Linked DNA regions of Homo sapiens. The protein of the gene in region 3 purifies or fractionates together with the protein of the main gene of each other region. This does not show direct contact. Each region holds a gene or a part of one and is shown on either strand. Other genes may lie near its edges.

Evidence for each region. The genes of interacting proteins can lie anywhere in the genome.
Region 1: the proteins of TTC29 (region 3) and IKBIP purify together in Homo sapiens (affinity purification with mass spectrometry; 2 studies listed by BioGRID and IntAct, with this or other methods). This does not show direct contact.
Region 2: the proteins of TTC29 (region 3) and TAF8 purify together in Homo sapiens (affinity purification with mass spectrometry; 2 studies listed by BioGRID and IntAct, with this or other methods). This does not show direct contact.
Region 4: the proteins of TTC29 (region 3) and OBSL1 purify together in Homo sapiens (affinity purification with mass spectrometry; 3 studies listed by BioGRID and IntAct, with this or other methods). This does not show direct contact.

The regions. Positions count from the first base shown.
Region 1 is NC_000012.12:98,627,789-98,632,187, forward strand, and holds part of IKBIP (inhibitor of nuclear factor kappa-B kinase-interacting protein), read right to left. Parts: intron 1-4,399. UniProt on the Homo sapiens protein: Target of p53/TP53 with pro-apoptotic function.
Region 2 is NC_000006.12:42,056,125-42,060,523, reverse strand, and holds part of TAF8 (transcription initiation factor TFIID subunit 8), read right to left. Parts: intron 3,136-4,399; coding exon 3,011-3,135; intron 1-3,010. UniProt on the Homo sapiens protein: The TFIID basal transcription factor complex plays a major role in the initiation of RNA polymerase II (Pol II)-dependent transcription.
Region 3 is NC_000004.12:146,910,284-146,915,582, forward strand, and holds part of TTC29 (tetratricopeptide repeat protein 29), read right to left. Parts: intron 1-5,299. UniProt on the Homo sapiens protein: Axonemal protein which is implicated in axonemal and/or peri-axonemal structure assembly and regulates flagellum assembly and beating and therefore sperm motility.
Region 4 is NC_000002.12:219,558,040-219,562,438, forward strand, and holds part of OBSL1 (obscurin-like protein 1 isoform 1 precursor), read right to left. Parts: coding exon 4,363-4,399; intron 3,970-4,362; coding exon of another isoform or gene 3,845-3,969; exon of another isoform or gene 3,683-3,844; intron 1,459-3,682; coding exon 1,186-1,458; intron 421-1,185; coding exon 145-420; intron 72-144; coding exon 1-71. UniProt on the Homo sapiens protein: Core component of the 3M complex, a complex required to regulate microtubule dynamics and genome integrity. It is unclear how the 3M complex regulates microtubules, it could act by controlling the level of a microtubule stabilizer.

The DNA of each region.
Region 1 (4,399 bases), on a different chromosome or scaffold from region 3:
TACAATTTGATATCTTTCCTAAAATCCTATAATTCTGGAAGGGTTTCTGCCAAAAAATTTTTTTGACCAACCTCTTGCAGAGAAAGTACTAGAATCAGGTCTTACAGATACAAAGGCAACAATGAATTAAAAAACAGTTTAGTGAGACAAGTCAAATTGAATGGTAAAGTGTTTTAAGTATTTGTAAATTATGCTAAGCCTCCGGCACCTCCTAATCTGTATCTGGAATATAGAAGGCCAAGTCATTGACCTCTTTTAGTCTACACTTAGATAACAGCTTTAGAGACTACAGGAAGGCCTAGAAATAATCATTAATTTATTATGTGCTTGCAGCATTATGCTGAAGACATAATACTGAACAAGATACAAAATACTGCCCTTAAGCAGCTTTGTTTAATCGACGAGAAAGACAAGTGTATATGCACTATGACAGGTGAAGAGCTATGGAAGCACTCAGGTGGAGACCCAACCTAGACTTCAGTGATGAAGGAAAGTATTTTAGAAAAAGTAATATCTAATATCTGCTTCCAGTTGCTTGCTCTCTAAATTAGCCTACACACTACTACTAGACTAAGCTTTTAAAAACTGGTATGCCTATCATGGTACACTGTTACAAAACCTTTGATGTTTCCTAATACTTCTAGGATAAAGTCTCAAATTCTCTAACCTCTCCCTATGCTATCCTCCTCTCCTCTTTATTTAGTTACATTGTCCTTACTTCAAGGCTCAGACCGGATCTCAGCTCCTCAGAGCAGCATTTCTTCCATAGCCCTAGCCCTGACAACCTGAATTCCTGTAGCACCTATTACACATATATTTGCCACATATTTGCCTCTTAGCACATACAATTAAAAAATTTTGAGGGTTCACTCTGTGCCAGCCTTGTGTGAGACAGTGGAGACAAATACAGCATAGTCCTTGATTTCACAATTTGATTGGGAGACAGTGTTTAGATCTTCCACATCATATATTCTAGAGTCCCAACAAGATCTACTGAGTACCCTGTGTGAGGTAGTTCCATTATCAGGTACTAGGGAAATGGAGATAAAAGATGCAGTGTATGCTCTAAAGAGGAGTAAAGGAGATAAACTAGCAACCAAAAAAATCACAGTAGATTATAAGTAGCGTCACAAAAGAATTAGCACAGGGGGCAATGGATGCTTTGAGGAGAGATAAAAAGTTAGGAGGGCAATGCGAAAAGGCCTGGAAGTGGCTCCAAAATTGGAATCATTAACAGACTGATTGATGAATTAGCAGGGTGAAGATGTGAAAGCTTCTAAATTTCAAAGGAGAAGAGACCATGTCTTATGCCTCTGTGTAATCCCTACATCTCAGAGTACAAAGAATATGTTTGTTGATGCTTAGGAAGAATGACCCTAAGCCTTCTAGGTCCACCCCAATCAAGACTTAAAGAGTATGCAACAAGAATGACTAACACCACTCTGAAATGTTGTTTAAAATTTATTTTAAGGGTTGGGCATGGTGGCTTACGCCTTAATCCCAACATGTTGGGATGCCAAGGCAGAAGGACTGCTTGAGCCTAGGAGTTTGAGACCAGCCTGGGCACAAAGCAAGACCCTGTCTCTATCAAACAAACAAACAAACAAACAAACAAACAAAATTAGTTGGGCATGGTGGTGTGCGCCTGTAGTCCCAGCTACTTGGGAGGCTGAGGTGGGAGGATTCCTTGAGCCCAAGAGTTCAGGGTTGCAGTGAGCTATGATCATGCCACTGCATTCCATCCTTGGTGACCGGGCAAGACCCTGTCTCAAACATACATACATACACACACACACATTTAAAGAAAACAAACAAAAAAATCCAAAGAAATAAAAACCTCTTTTAAATGTACACATACAGCCATAATACAAGTTCCTTTTAAAATCAATTATGAGAAATACTAACCATTAACATGGTTAGGTTTAGTTGTTTTATTAGCAGTATTTTGAAGAGGCAAGCTTATCCTCACCTAAGGTAATGTCCTGTTTAGGAGGTTCATCAGAGCCTCACTATAATCTGAAAGCAGTATACCCCAAGTAAGTGCAAGATGTTATAGATTTAATCTGCAAATATTTAGTGACTAGTATGCCACAGTAGCTAGCATTTATGGGCCACCAACATATTCTAATCGTTTTTCATTTTTATTTACTAAAAAAATTTTTTTTGTAGAGATGGGGTCTCACCATGTTGCCTGGGCTGGTCTCAAACTGCCAGGCTCAAGTGATGCTCCCAACTTAGCTTCCCAAAGTGCTGAGATTACAGGCATAAGCCACCACACCGGGTCTCATTTTTTCTTAAAGAAAGAGCTAGTAGGGCCAGGTGCGGTGGCTCACACCTGTAATCCCAGCACTTTGGGAGGCTGAGGCGGGTGGACCACCTGAGGTCGGGAGATTGAGACCATCCTGGCTAACACAGTGAAACCCCATGTCTACTAAAAATACAAAAAATTAGCCGGGTATGTTGGCACATGCCTGTAATCCCAGCTACTTGGGAGGCTGAGGCAGGAGAATTGCTTGAACCCAGGAGGCAGAGGTTGCAGTGACCAGATCTCCCCACTGCACTCCAGCCTGGGCAACAAGAGCCTGGGCAAAAAAAAAAAAAAAAAAAAAAAAAAAAAAAAAAAAAGAGCTAGTACTTTATTAGTGCTTGATTGTTTTCAAAGAATTTGTATATAAAGTAAGTCCTCACTTAACGTCATTGGTAGGTTCTTGGAAACTGACTTTAAGTGGAACTATTCAGAGCAGCTCCTCCAACAACGTTGTTTCGATGTCCTTTCATTACAACGTAGATGAGAAAAAAATTGGTTTCATTATACACTTCACTTAAAATCGTAGTTTCCAGGAACCTATTGATGACCAGGAACCTATTGATGACGTTGAGGACTTACTGTATATCTCATCTGATCTTTATAAAAATCTTATTATTTCTCACTTAATAAATGATGAAATAGAGATGAAGATAAGTTATAGTGATTTGTCTAAGGTCACACAGTTGGGATGGGTGTCCATGTCTAGCTGTTTTCCCCTCCATCTGGGTTATGCTGCCCTTTAGGGCCACCTTTGTGAAAAGGGACCTCTTATTAAATTACTCCCAGGGCAGAATGGGAGAAAAAGCTACGAAAAGACTGAATATTTCTTTTTTTTCTTTTCATTTTTTTTTTTGAGACGGAGTTTCGCTCTTGTTGCCCAGGCTGGAGTGCAATGGCATGATCTCGGCTCACCACAACCTCCACCTCCCAGGTTCAAGTAATTCTCCTACCTCAGCCTCCCGAGTAGCTGGGATTACAGGCATGCACCATCATGCCCAGGTAATTTTTTGTACTTTTAGTAGAGATGGGGTTTTTCCATGTTGGTCAGGCTGGTCCTGAACTTCTGACCTCAGGTGATCCACCTGCCTTGGCCTCCCAAAGTGCTGGGATTACAGGTGTGAGCCACCACGCCTGGCCAAGACTGAATATTTTTTGGATTCTATAATGATATTTTAAAAATCTGCTTCAAAAGCTTTTTTTTTGAGATGGAGTCTCACTTTGTTGCCCAGGCTGGAGTGCAGTGGTGCAATCTCGGCTCACTGTGACCTCTGCCTCCCCGGTTTAAGCGATTCTCCTGCCTCAGCCTCCTGAGTAGCTGGGACTACAGACACACGCTACCATGCCCAGCTAATTTTTGTGTTTTTAGTAGAGATGGGGTTTCATCATGTTGGCCAGGCTGGTCTTGAACTCCTGACCTCAGGTGATCCACCCACCTCGGCCCCTCAAAGTGCTGGGATTACAGGTGTGAACCACCGTGCCCAGCCTGGCCAACATGGTGAAACCCCGTCTCTACCAAAAATACAAAAATTAGACGGGTGTGGTGGTACACACCTGTAGTCCCAGCTACTCGGGAGGCTGAGGCAGGAGAATCACTTGAACCCGGGAGGCGGAGGTTGCAGTGAGACAAGATCGAGCCATTGTACTCCAGCCTGGATGAGAAAAGTGAAACTCTGTACCACCCCTGACCTCCCCCACAAAAAAAAAAAGAAAAAAAAAAAGGAGAAATCTTGTTCAAAATAAGTTTTCAATAGCTTTTATTTATATTTATTTATTTATTGAGATGGAGTCTCACTCTGTTGCCCAGGCTGGAGCACAATGGCGTGATCTCAGCTCACTGCAATCTCCACCTCCCAGGTTCAAGTGATTCTCCTGCCTCAGCCTCCCGAGTAGCTGGGATTACAGGCGCCCGCCACCACGCCCAGCTAATTTTTGTATTTTTAGTAGAGATGGGGTTTCACCATGTTGGCCAGGCTGATCTCAAACTCCTGACCTCGTGATCTGCCTGCTTCGGCCTCCCAGTGTGCTGGGATTACAGGCGTGAGCCACCGCGTCCGGCCTTCAATAGCTTTTAATTAAATATGTGAAGTTTTG
Region 2 (4,399 bases), on a different chromosome or scaffold from region 3:
GTATTTGAGGGTACAAACCCATGGCTGGGCTCGGCTTTTAAAAAGTCTTATCTGAGATTCTTCATGGAACAGAGTTCTATCAAAGCCAATTTAAAAAGTCTAAGTGAAAAATAATTATTCTTGCTGCACTTTATGCAAATAATCGGGCCAAGTACAGTAAGACTAAAGTTTATTTTGTAAACAAATCAGTTGTATCATGATTTGTTTTTAATAAAAATGGGGACTGGAGAGAGAAAAATTATGCTTCAAAAGAAAAACTATAGTACACTGTTGTTAGCTGTTCTTGAGGTTTTTTCTGCAGTTTAGACTAAATTCTAAAGTCTTTGTGGGTTAGAAGTCCCCAAACTAGTGCTTCCAAATCTTTGCTTTTAAAATTGGGAATTGTACTCCTCATCCTAGGACTCGTTATTTACCTTATAGTGGGCTGTTTCACTTAAACACTGTAGTAAAACTACAGAGTACTAATGTTTGTGCCATGCAAGCCATGAACGCCTAGCCAGGCCTGCATGAGTACACTCAGACAGTTGCAAACCAGTTCCACTCTTCTCACCTTCGGGTTCACTCCCATTCCCATAATGTGCCCTGTCAGCAGGAAGAAGCCAGAGCAATTGATAGCCTTTTCCCATCTTCACAGCCTACACCTTAAGATTAAGGTGTTATAAAACCCAAAGGGAAGGACTGAAACCACGTTTGCAAAATTATGACTGAGACGGTGAAAGAGATCTAACTTAACTGACTCCATCTTGCTTCTAACCTCCAAGCTGTCCTTGTTCATTCCTGGGCGGAGGCTAAACTAACTTTGGGAGAAACTTAGTTTAGAGTTTAAACAAAGACAGTGACACTCCTTTTCCCAAAGAAGACCTCCATCTTGCCTGGAGACTAGATTGCCTTTGTAGGACTAACATTAGCCACAAGATTGGAAATTATGGTTTAGAAGTCATGCAGCTGGAGGCTACAAGATTCTGACCCTCCCTATACTGTTCCTAAGATCAGTGTTGAGACACCTTGCACTTGATGGATCAGCTGGCACCACCCAGATCAATAAACTGGCTCATCTGATCTTGTGGCCCCCACCCAGGAACTGACTCAGTGCAAGAAGACAGCTCTGAGTCCCTATGATTTCTTTTTTTTTTTTTTTCTTGAGACAAAGTCTCGCTCTGTCGCCCAGGCTGGAGTGCAATGGTGCAATCACGGCTCACTGCAAGCTCTGCCTCCCGGGTTCACACTATTCTCCTGCCTCAGCCTCCCAAGTAGCTAGGACTACAGGTGCCCGCCACCATGCCCGGCTGATTTTTTGTATTTTTAGTAAAGACGGGGTTTCACCATGTTGGCCAGGATGGTCTCGATCTCCTGACCTCATGATCCCCCCACCTCGGCCTCCCAAAGTGCTGGGATTACAGGCGTGAGCCACCTTGCCCGGCCCTGAGTCCCTATGGTTTCATCTCTGACCAATCAGCACTCCTGGCTCACTGGCTTCCCCCGACCTACCACATTATCCTTAAAAACTCTGCTCCCCGAATGCTGGGGAAGACTGATTTGAGTAATAATAAAACTCCAGTCTCCCCCTCTGCCCCCCAACCACACACAAAAAAGAATGCCATGTGAAGACAGAAAGCTGGAGTGATGCATCTATGAGCCAAGAAATGCCAAAGAATGCTGGCCAACCACCAGAAGCTAGGAAGAGGCAAGGAGGGACTCCCCTACAGGTTTCAGAGGGAGCATGACACCTTGCTTTTAGACTTCTAGCCTCCAGAACTGTGAGACAATAAATTTCTGTTGTTCTAAGTCACCTGGTTTGTGGCATTTTGTTACAGCAGCCCAGGAAACTAATAGAGAGATCTGACCAAGGGCAAGGGCAAGGGCTATGTTGCATTAGCTGGGCAGCTACTATTCCCTCTCCCCCACCCTAAGGTATGGAAAAATGCCCAGAGGACGTGAGGGCTTGCCATCACTATATGGTATGCAGGCAGAAGCAAAGGAAGTGTGGGAGGGCACCTTCCCAACGGAAGGTAAAACTGCCATTCAGGCAAATTAGAACACATTCAAACCACAGAGGATAATTCATCTTCTCCTCATTCAGACCTAGAGCTCAGAGTGATAAGTTCCATTTCATTATCATTACTAATTTTTATTTATTTCTTTTTGAGACAGAGTCTTGCTCTGTCGCCTAGGCTGGAGTGCAGTGGCGCAATCTCAGCTCACTGCAACCTCTGTCTCCCAGGTTAGATTCTCCTGCCTCAGCCTCCTGAGTAGCTGGAACTACAGGTATGTGCCACCACGCACAGCTAATTTTTGTAATTTTAGTAGAGATGGGGTTTCACTGTGTTGGCCAGGCTGGTCTTGAATTCCTGACCTCAGGTGATCCATCTGCCTCGGCCTTCCAAAGTGTTGGGATTAAAGGTATGAGCCACTGCTCCCGGCCATTACTAAATATTTTTAAAGTAACTTTTCCCCCAATTGAAAAAATAATTTTCCTATTATGGAAAATTTGGAAAACTCAGAAAAGTAAACACAAAACAAAATGACCTATAATCTCAACCCAAAATTACTATGAACATTTAGTGGAATACCTTTTCAGTCTTGTTCCTATGCGGCTATGTACTTTTGTGTTTTAGTAGGACAGGCAATACTGGGGCCAGCTTCAATTTCTTTGTTAATTATACTTTAGCTGGCAAACTTGAGAACATAATTCTCATTTGCCAAATTGTTTCTCAATTATGAAAGATAATCTGAATTCTTTTTTTTTTCTTTATTTATTTATTTTTCAAATGAGACAGGGTCTTGCTCTGCTGCCCAGGCTGGTCTTGAACTCCCAGGCTCAAGTGATCCTCCTGCCTCGGCCTCCTAAAATGCTGGGATTACAGGTGTGAGCCAATGTGCCCGGCCACATTCTGAGTTTTGAACCACTCTTTCATCAACAAGCTTTTGGACTGGACTCTGCCACGTGACAGTCAGTAGGAACTGACTCCGTGCTTTACACCACGCGCAGTCCCAGTGCTTCATCACTCACCGGAGTTTTGATGTAGGTGTGGGGATCAGGGAACTCAGGAAAATGGCTGGGGATGTGCGGCGGGTGGGGTCGGTTCTGCCCTGCAGTGAGGGCCTTGGGGGTCACTGGCTGATTGGTCACCGGAGCTGCAACAGAGTCACAACTGATTACCCCTCCACCCAAGACCCTGATTTCTACAGATTATGGTCTCTCCCCAAAGCCTCCTTTTCTCAAAAAAATGCCAGACCTCAATTTTCTAAACAAGTTGCATTTTGTATTTCAATCGATAAAAGGTCTTTGATGGCTTACAATGCCCAGCCCTGCTGGCTAATCTTGGTTGACGTTCCCTTTGACAACAATCTGCCCACAAGCCTCTTAGGTAGAGGTGGGTGGCTGTGGCCACAGTAACTACGTAAAACAGCATGCTGAGGAGCTACGCAGGTTACATGGGCTGCTGGTTCTCTTTTCAGAGACCTTGGATAACAAAAAGGAACAATGAGCTGGGGACATTAAGTGTGAGCTTAATCATAACAAGAGGGGATTGAAAATGGCACCTTCCACTGCTATGTTGAGAGGGAGTTTTTAAAAAAATGCCAACAAGAAAAAAGTGACTTTAAAGAAGAAATCCAGGCCGGGTGCGGTGGCTCACGCCTGTAATCCCAGCACTCTGAGAGGCCGAGGCAGGCGGATCACTCGAGGTCAGGAGTTCGAGACCAGCTTGGCCAACATGGTAAAACCCTGTCTCTACTAAAAATATAAAAGTTAGCTGGGTGTGGTGGCGAGCGCCTGTAATCCCAGCTACTTGGGAGGCTGAAGCAGGAGAATAGCTTGAACCTCGGAGGCAGAGGTTGCAGTAGTCAGCCGAGATTGTGCCACTGCACTCCAGCCTGGGCAACAGAGCGAGACTCCATCTCAAAAAAAGAAAGAAAAGAAAAAAATCCAGTTAACTCTCTCCAGGTCCTACAAGCCCAAACTGGTTACTCTCTACTCAGCTTATGGCACCCAGGTTTACTTAAAGTAGAGGTCATCAAAGTTTGTGTAAAGGGCCATATAATAAATACTTTAGGTTTTGCATGTGGTACAGTCTCTACCACAACTAAACTATGCCATTATAGCATGAAAACAACCACAGATAATAAGTAAATATGGCTGCATTCCGATAAGACTTTATTTACAAAAACAGGAGGCAGGCTGCATTTGGCCCATAGGCCACAATTTACCAACCCTTAATCTAAGAAGAACAAAAACTTTCATTTTTCCAAGCAGCATCATTTGCCCTTCTGGGGCTAGAACACAAGAAACACAGCAATATCTCAAAGATGGTTTACCTTTTGGTGACTGAATTTCACATGCTAATCAGACTAGCCCAAATAAAGATTATATTGTAGGTAGCCCCAAACATTGGAAGAG
Region 3 (5,299 bases):
GATTCCTCTAGGAACCAAATGAAATTAGGTATGTGAGAATACTCTGGGAAATGTGAAATCTCACTGCTGCTTCTCAATTCCTCATTATGCATTAGATTCACCTACAGAGTTCAAAAAAACAAACAAATAACAAAACAAAACAAAGTGACTAGACTTGCATCTACCAAGGATTTCTTATCCATTGGATCAACTTAGGTAGAGAACAAACAAATGAGGAGTGGCAAGCAGGAGAGTGGTGAGACAGGAAGTTTAGAAAAAAAGGCAGGGACCAGATCATGAAGAGATCTTACGGTAAAAACAACAGTGAGAAGTTTGGACTCCAAGCTGGGAGGGAGGTAGAGCTATTGGAGATCAGAGTCAGGGAACTGACATGACGAGACTGCATTTTACAAAAGTCATCTGGAAGAAGTGTCCCAGCTGAACCGCAACCTTCCCCTATATGGCAGTCAGGTTGTTACAGAACTAGTTCGTAAAGAGAATAAAGAGACCACATGGATCCTAGGTCAAAAGATCAAATGCCAACATTTAGTATGAGAATAAGATATATTTGAAATGGGGAAGAGAAAAGGAATAGTGCTTGTTACTTATTCCTGTCCTCCAATTGCGATCGATAGAGGAGAAAAGTATGGAGAAAGGCAGTGAGATGCTTGGAGGGCCATGTTCTCTTTCTCTTTCTCACTCCAGTCAAATGGAGGGGCTCAGAGAGTAGAAAAGTCAACATCCTGTGAAATGCAGTGAGAGCCAAGAGTAGAAAACACTCATATCCTGCTTCCCATCTAGGGTTATTGAAGGCAGGGAGGATTACCAACATCCCTCTCCCCACCTCCCTATACGCAAGGGCATGCAAAGGCAGCAAAAGTCCCTGCATAGCACTTCTAGGCAGAAGAGGACCAGAACCAACCCTGTAATTGCCCACAGCCCATGAATGGTATAGGAGAAGGGACTTAATATTCCAGTGGGCATCATGTGTGGCCCAGAATTTACTGGGAGGAGAGGGCTGATAAGTCTGTCACAATGTCATCTGGCCATAGCAAGGAGATGTATCCTAATGACTGCTCATGGGCTGCCCACTGGGGACTGAAGGAAGACACAGCTAAAACTGAAATGAGCATACTGGGGAGCTCCTGAAGGGTTCAGGTCAGCATATTTCCAGAGCTCATAGAACAAAGACGGATCAAGTACATCAGAGATGGACACATGTAAAGGACTTCATAAGCTAGGAATGCATTCAGCTATAAGTAAAAGAAACTTGTCTCACAGTGCTGTGAAAAATGGAGGTTTCTAATTTTCTTGCCTAAAGGCAGGCAGCTGAGGGCCTTGGTTCAGTAGCCTGGCAAGTTCAAGACCATGTCTCTGGGGTTATCTTGACTTTCCCTCCTTCTGGTCCCTTACTGGTTGCTACAGGGCTGCTACAGCTTCAGACATTAGGTCTACTTTCAAGACAGGAAGAAAAGGGAAAGTGGGTTGGCACTGGCATCCCTTATTTTAGGGAAAAATGAAACATTCCTGCAACCACTAGCGGATTTCCACTTGTTTATTGGCCAGAACCCTGTCACAGCCCCACTCCTCACCTTGGTGCAAGGAGTCTGGAAAAACAAATACCCTGCCTGCTCTTGGGCATGTTGCTGCCCCCAAGCAAAACTAGAGCTATGTCTGCAAAGATGGAGGAAGGAATGGATACTGGCCAGACAAATGCAGTGACAATTACAAAGTCCTAGAAGTCAGAGGTGTCCAGTCTTTTGGCTTCTCTGGGCCACATTGGAAGAAGAATTGCCTTGGGCCACACATAAAATTCACTAACACTAACAATAGCTGATAAGCTAAAAAAAAAATCACAAAAAAATCTCATAGCCTTTTTAAGAAAGTTTATGAATTTGTGTTGGGCCACATTCAAAGCCATCCTGGGCCGCATGTGGCCCACGGGCACTGGGTTGGACAAGCTTGTTCCAGGTCAAGATCTGAAAATAAATGTTGTTACCCCAGGGGGTTACCAGATAAAATGTAGGATGCCCAGGTACATTTTAACATCAGATAAACAATGAATGATTTTTTTATTAGCAGTATTCCCCAAATATTGCACAGAACATACTTATTCTAAAAAAAAATTTCTTGTTTTTGAAACTCAGACTGAACTGTATGGTCTGTATTTCTATTTGCTAAATCTAGTAACTCTACTCCCCTGAAGCCCCGAGTAGTGCGCTGCTGTTTCCGTGTAGGAAAATAGGGTGAGGGGAAGAAGTTTTAGAATCTTGAACAACCTGAGAAACTGCCGAATTGGACTGACTTTACCTGAGAGTGACAAGATTGGATTTTTACACTAGGGAGGATCAAGGCTCAGGGCCAGGAATTAAAATTAAGTTATAAAAAAATAAAGACTTTCAATTTAGCATTCTCGAGTCTGTGAGTCAGAAATTCACACCTGATCCAAGAGAAGGGAGGGGAGGAGGGTAAAACCGGGAGCAGGAAGAACAGATGGGAGACTGGTGGTTGTGGAAAGGAGAGGTGCTGGGGGTGGAACCAGGGTAAAGCTGGAAGGATAGAGAGAAGTAGGTGATTTCAAAACATTTTAAGGAGACAAAAATATGGGTTACTTGGTGATTCAAAGGATATCAAGGGTGAAGGAAAGGGAGGAGCAAGGATAACAACCAGGTTTTGGGATTGGGTAATGGGTAATTAGTAATTTGCTGAAGAGGGGAACACGAAAGGATGAACAGGTTTGGGGAAAGATAATGAGTTAAGGTTCAGATAACTGGAGTTTCAGGAGCCTGAGGGGACCTCCACGTGTTACCCTAGAAGGCAGTTTGGGGGGTGACATAGGAGGCCTGAGAGGACAAGGGGTTGTAATCTTGCTCACACAAGCAATGCCACCTTTGTATGTGTATGCACTGGCGGCCAGCCGATCTTCCTAGGAGTGAAGAAAACATTTGGGGGCCAAAATGAAGAAAATTATAAATAGATAAAAATTAAAATTGACCATAAATGATACAAATAAATGCTAGATAGGGCAGTTAGAAGGCTGTCTCAGTTCTAATCACAACAGGGTCAGAAATCCAGAAAAATCACTCTGGGCCTCATTTTCCCCACCTGGAAGATGAAGGTGCTTTTGCTGGATTTGGTCCACCCAGCATCTAGCTCCACGTCCACAGGAGGCACATTCTAAAAGTATTTCAGAAATAACCAATCCCACGTTGTGTGTAGTCTTGGTGGCATGGAAATTCAGGGACTCCCTAGCCAAGGAGTGGGTTATTGACCCAAATTAGGCCAACTGGTCTCTCTCCCAAAATTCTGAAACCAGAGGCAAGCAACATAAAGGTGTAGGAGGTTGCTGGTGCTCAATCAATCTGGAAGAATCTTGACAAGATTCTCTCGTAGTTCCTGCTAACTACGTCCATTTGAGAGGGCTGGGTCTGGTCTTTTTCTTCTGATCTGGGTTCTCCTCTAAATTCCACCATAACCTTTCAATAAAATCATTTCCACTTGATTTAGTCAGAATCCATTTCTGCTGTCTGTGACCAAAGAACACTAAGTGATTCAGAAGGGGTTGGACAATCATTTCCACAATGCCTTTCAGCTTCAAACATCTGTGATATATAACTGATATCAATTTTTAAAATTTCTAGTACATTTTTAAAAAAGATCATTCTTTACAGATGATGTTACAAATAGAAATGTATTTAAATATGCATATAGAACTATGCTGGTATCATCTCTATTTTTTACACACATGCGCACATACCTATGCATACAAATATGCTACTGTTTAAGCCTCATTGCTAATATTTGAGAGCAAGAAAAGACAATTATAGTGGTTTAATAAATAGGTTCCTATCTAAACCTTCATAGTTATTGCAAATTATTTCTTTTAACCAGAAAATCTTCTTTTATTAAAATAAATCGGCTATCTAAAAAAAAGGAATGTCAATCTCTACCATTAGATTTGAATTTCTCAGGTTTTAAATTTCATAACAGAGAACCATAGCCCAAGTTCACTTGCTGTATGAAAGAGAATTGTTTTAAACACAAATAGAAATATAAACAAAACTCAGATTTATTCGCTTAATCATTATTTCATTTGGCCATAAACTTTTTAGGCTTTGGTTTCATTTACACATTAAAAAACTTTTATGAATATTAGTCTAAATTAACAGATGCTGTTTTTAAGCATCAGAAAAAGAAAAATCTTCTTGAACTGATGCCATGATACTGGATGAAAATAGAGAATGCTGGTAAAATTTATGGAGAGATTTAATATTAGGAAATATGAGGAGAGTTCATCTGACAGGAAAAAAACGTGCCATTCACAGAAGCAAAAGTTGTCACATTCGTGGACATGCTGAATGTATCCTGAGGAAGATCTTTGCCACTGCAGATACTTGGGGCTGCAACGAGATAAGGGATGCAGCTTGAGAATGCATTTGAGAATGAAATTAAGTAGTCAAGCATTTCATATGGGTTTTATTGCCATTTAAGGGCATTATTCATTCAATGGAGATGTTGTTAATTGTTTTGAATTCACATCAACATCTCCCTAAAAAAATGCAGAGATTTAAAAAATCTAGAGACTGACAGAAAGCAGAGCTGAACAATATGGCATAACTCCACAGCAGGTGAATATATAGAGATGCTGGGAAATGGAGAATTTACTGCTAAACAGCCATGGAGATATTATAGTGTTTTAAAATTCTGCCTTAAACTATTTTGAATAGCTACTATTTATAGAACACCCACAATGTGTCAGGCACTGTGTAGACATCATTTCTAACTGGCACAATAACTGTATAAAGAACTACTTCAATTTTTACAAATTAAAAAACCTGTCTTCAGTGAGGTTGTGAATTGCCCAAAGCCATACAAGTTATTAATAGTAAATGGCAGAGTTGGAATTCACACCCAGCTCCCTCTGGTTGCAAATTCTGAATTCTTCCCATTTCCCTACATTGCCTCCTATTATATCATGTATTGTTGCTTTTTCTTCTTCTCCTCCTCCACACAATGTTTTATTTATTGCATTGATTAGGAATTTGATGTTATTTGACAATTATGATGCAATCTTTCAATTGGTAAGCCATTCTCTTTATCCATGGCAATCCATGTTTAGGTTGGGTTGGAGACAGAGATCAGTATCATTTTGTGACTCCCCCAGAAAATCCTTCTCTTTAAAAGGAGAGAGCAGACAGCCAGCAGCATCCAGGAAGAGCAAATTAAATGGATATGGTTCCCACTCAAGGGTGTAAACTCTAACGGGAAAAACACTGACAAAGACAAACATTTAAAAGGATAAAAAGCATATACTTCTATA
Region 4 (4,399 bases), on a different chromosome or scaffold from region 3:
CACTGGCTCCCCAGGGGCCACACAGAGCGGGCTTGGAGTTGTCTCTAGAGCAAGGAACTGCACTGGAGGCTCTGGAGAAGAGAGGAAGGTGTCATCCCATGCTTGCCCTTGCCTCCCTGCCCTGGGTTGGCCAGGAGCACCCACCAGCCAGGATGACATTGAAGGTGATGGCCTCATGCCGGGTCTCACACACATACTCCCCGGCGTCCTCAGGCTGGGCGTGGGGCAGGGTCAGGGTGCGGGTGGGCCCCTCGGCACCCAGCTGCAGGGCATCTGATGCCTCCACTTCCAGCCCGTCCTTGTACCAGCGCACCTGAGACCCAGCTGGGGCCACCTCACAGCGCAGCTCCACGCGCCCTGGAGCCCCAAAATGCAGATCCAGGGAGCGGGCTGCCGGGTGCACAATCCTCTCTGGTGGGGCTGGTGGGTGGGCATGGAGAGGGGCACATAGGCTTGGCCAGCAGGCCTCTCCTGCCTCACCCGCCAGATCCTCAGCCCTCCCCACTGGCAGCACAGCTCTTGAGAACAGTGCCAGCTGCAGTCCATGGAGCAGCTGCTGTGTGCCAGGCACTGTCCTAAGAACCCTGTGTTTTTTCAATCAGTTACTCTGACCACCCTCAAGAGGTGCACAGCTGCTGGCTGCACTTCATGGCTGAGGACCTGAGGCCTCTTTAGAAGAAACTGACTTGCCTAAGGTCACACAGACAGAAAGAGGCAGATCTAGACTCACACCCAGATCTACACACCCCACTCCACACCCATCCCCACTTCCTATCCCCTTTCCCTGCCTTGCCTCTGATGCACTTGTTACCACCTGACAAACCATCTCTTTTATTTTTTGTCTGTCCACCCTCACCAGAGTTTAAACTCTGTGAAGACAAGAGGTTTAGTCTTATTGGTTCACTGCTGTATCCCCAGCATCTAAAACAGTGCCAAGCACATAGTAGTTGCTCAATGAGTATTGAACGAATGGATGAATGAACGAATGGTTCTAATTGCTGGGCACCCTCCCACCAGGCCTCTGGTCCTGACCTGATGTGGCTAAGCAGGATTCTGATGGCCAAACATGAGGAAGCTGGATAAGGGGAAGGCTGGGGATGGGGTGGGGGAGGTGGGGCTAGGTGGGTGTCTGTCCCTTAGCCCCCTACCTCTCTACCTCCTCTCTGTGCTGCAGAGACTGCCCACCTGTGACAGTGACAGTGAAGAAGGCCGAGTCATCTCCAGCATCACATACAAACTCGCCCCCGTCCTCGGGCTGAGCAGCAGGTAGCACCAGGCGGCAGCGTGGCCCATCCCTCTCCAGCACCAGGGCCTCGCTCTCCTCCACTTCCAGCCCATCCTTGTACCAGCGCACAGGGGCATCCTCCCGAGACAGTTCACACATCAGCACCACACACTCCAAGGTCACGGCGATCAAGGTCACCTCATCGCGAGGGTATATGATCCGCACTGGGGGTTCTGCAGGGTGGGGACAACCACAGCCTGTCACAAGCTCACCGTCAGCCTCTCTGGAGCCATTCGGCAGCATGAAGTCCCTATCACCCACATAATAATGAGAATAATAAGTAAAATAATAATAAGCAATAATAGGTCCACAGTTTGTTCTCTGAAATCCCTGGGGCCAGAGGGTGTTACAGAATCCAGAATGCTTTGGATTCCAGAAATGATGCGTTTCTCATCTATCACATACCTTCCTCAGCCCCCACGGGAGCCTCCCCCTTCATCGGTCACGTTAACATGTCTGTGGTATAACACATACTACATTCACCCTAAGCAGGATAGATTGAAAGATACAGAATCTTACAGATACAAGCATATATCTATAAGACACTCATATCTTATAGATATACAGCTATAGCTATATTCACCCTCAGCAGGATAATTAAAGCATAGAAATAGCTTCAGAGCAATCAAGCTCAGGTTTTCCTGAAATGACTTGGAATACAAAACTTACAAAAAGCCTTTTGATTTTGAGAGTTTTGGAATTTTGGAACCATGGATAAGGGATGGTGGATCTACAATAGCAAACATTGATATGACACTTCCTAAGGTCCAGGAACAGTCCCAAGCACTTGAAACATTTAACTCTCACGGCAATCCTAAGAGGAAGGTAGTGTTTTGTCCCCATTTTCCATATAAGGGACTGGGCACAGAGTGATTATACAACTTCCTTAAGGTCACAGCTGGCTACACCCACTCTGGGGCAGGAGGAGGAAATACCCTCTGTTAAAGGGAGGCTCAGACCCCACAGGTAGTGGCAGGAATTCCAAGCCAAGGCTTGCAGGAACTCAGTAATGCTTTTTGCATTCAACGTCTGTCTGAGAGTTCCCCAGGGGTGCTAAATGCTGATTCTGGGAGCTCATCTCCAAGTTCTGGTCACTCCTCTGCAGAAAGGGAACCATGTCAATATTAGAGGTGACCAGCGCATGGAGCCCAGGCCTGCCCACACCCCTGCTGCCCCCAGGTCCCCCCAGAATCTTCAAGTTTTGGGGCGACTACTGCTCCATTAGCCTCTGGCCCCCTGGTGGCTGGGCTGAGGAACTGCTAGCTTCCCAATCAGGGGCCAGGGTTGGGGGGGTGGGGGCTGGGGGTGGTTTATAGGGGCATGCATGGGCCGAGGTAACCACAAGCTCCCACTCAGCCCCCCAGCCTCCACGGAGACTCCTGCCTTGAGCCACACAACCCACCTCCCCCATGGGCTTGCTTGCTCTAAGGGTCTGGGGGATGCAGGCTGGTCCTCTGGGGCCGAGCAAGGCCAGGAGAGACCAGAATGCAGCTGCCTGAGGAGTGGGGAAGGTGATGAGGGCAGTGGGGTGAGGACAGGGTGCAGTGATGGGACCGGGTGGCTGCCCAGCCCCGGGACCTCAGCTTGGTGTCAGACTTGATTCGCTCTGGCCTAGAGCAGAGGTGGTGTTTGTGTGAACTTCCCTGTGAAGAGACTGGTGTTTGTGGGGAGCCTGAGCATGGGCTGGAGTTTGTGTGGCTGTGGCCATTCTGTCTGGCCATGGCTGGGTGGGAGAGGGTGAAGATGATTACGACAGGGCAGAATATGTGCAGAAGGCCTCTTAGGCATTGTGGGCTTGTGTGTGTAGAGTGCATTAGCTGGGGTGCAAGGAGCAGGGGGGCCCTAAACAGCTCTGCATGGGGCGTGACTTTCAGGGCAGGGCTGGGAGAGGACAGGACTGTGGCCGCAGTAGGATGGGGGCTCCAGTGCAGCCACTGGGGTTCTGTGCCCCCCAGAGCTGCCTAGCCCTATGGACCCCCAGCCCCAGACACACACTGGGCTGGGCGCTGTGAGCCGTCACCCCGAGGTCTCCGGCACTGAACCTCCGTCACTTCCACAGTTGTCCTGTGCTTCTCCCGCTTTGAATATTCCCCCACACCCCACCCCACTTAGCTCCAGTATCAGCTTTGAAAGCACTTCCTGTTGCCTGGCCAGGGTGGTGGCTCCCAGCCCCAGGGTCCCTAGACTGGCCCTCAACAACCCATGCTCTAAGATCCTGGAATGCGTCTGGCTTTCCTGCCAGGCTGTGCAGTCCTAGAGGGAAGCGGCCGTGTCTGCGTGCTGCTGGCTCCCGTGTGTGGAAGGGTGACTTTCTCCCAGGCCTCCCTGACCCTCCTGCTCTGTGCTCTTGAGCCCTCTGCCCTTGGCCCTCACAGTACTTATCACCAGGTGTCACTGTACATTTATTTGCATGTTTATTGGTTTAACACAGGGGTCGCAAACTCAAATGCCCACAGGGGCCAGGTTAGGTTAGCGGCTGAAGCAGTCTGGGGAGAGGCAAAAAGCAATGGCAGGGAGGTGGGACAGAGGAATGTGGGCCCCAAACTATGGGGGCAGCTGCTACTCAGTGCCAGCTGTTCGTCGCCATGGGGGGAAGCGGGACCAGAGCCGCCGGGTCTTCGGCTTTTTCAAGAGGACGCATAACTCCGGATTGTTATTTGAACTGTCCTGACTTTGGTAAGACTCTGCAGACCAAACAAAGCACATGTGTGGAATGCGCAGGGCCCCAGGACTACCCGTTTGCGACCCCTGGTTAACAGCTGCCTCCTCACCTAGCCTGGCAGCTCATTCAGAATAGGGACCGTATTTGCATTACTCACCTGCTACTCCCAGTGCCTGATTCAGGGAAAGTGCTCAGTAAATGAGCTGTGGAGCAGAGCTAGGCCTGGCCTTGGGCACCGGGGAGGGGCTTGTTTCCTTGAATAGGGGCCCTGGGCTCATCTCAGCAAGAACCCTGGCACATGCACCTGCAGCCCACACCTCCCTCCTCCCCGGGGTGCTAGCTGGGGCTATGTGGCCAGCTCCTCCAGGGCTCAGGGCTGTCTCTGTGACCCCGGGGAGCTGGGCTGGGCCCACACCTGTGACGGTGACAGTGAAGGAGGCCGACTCATCGTC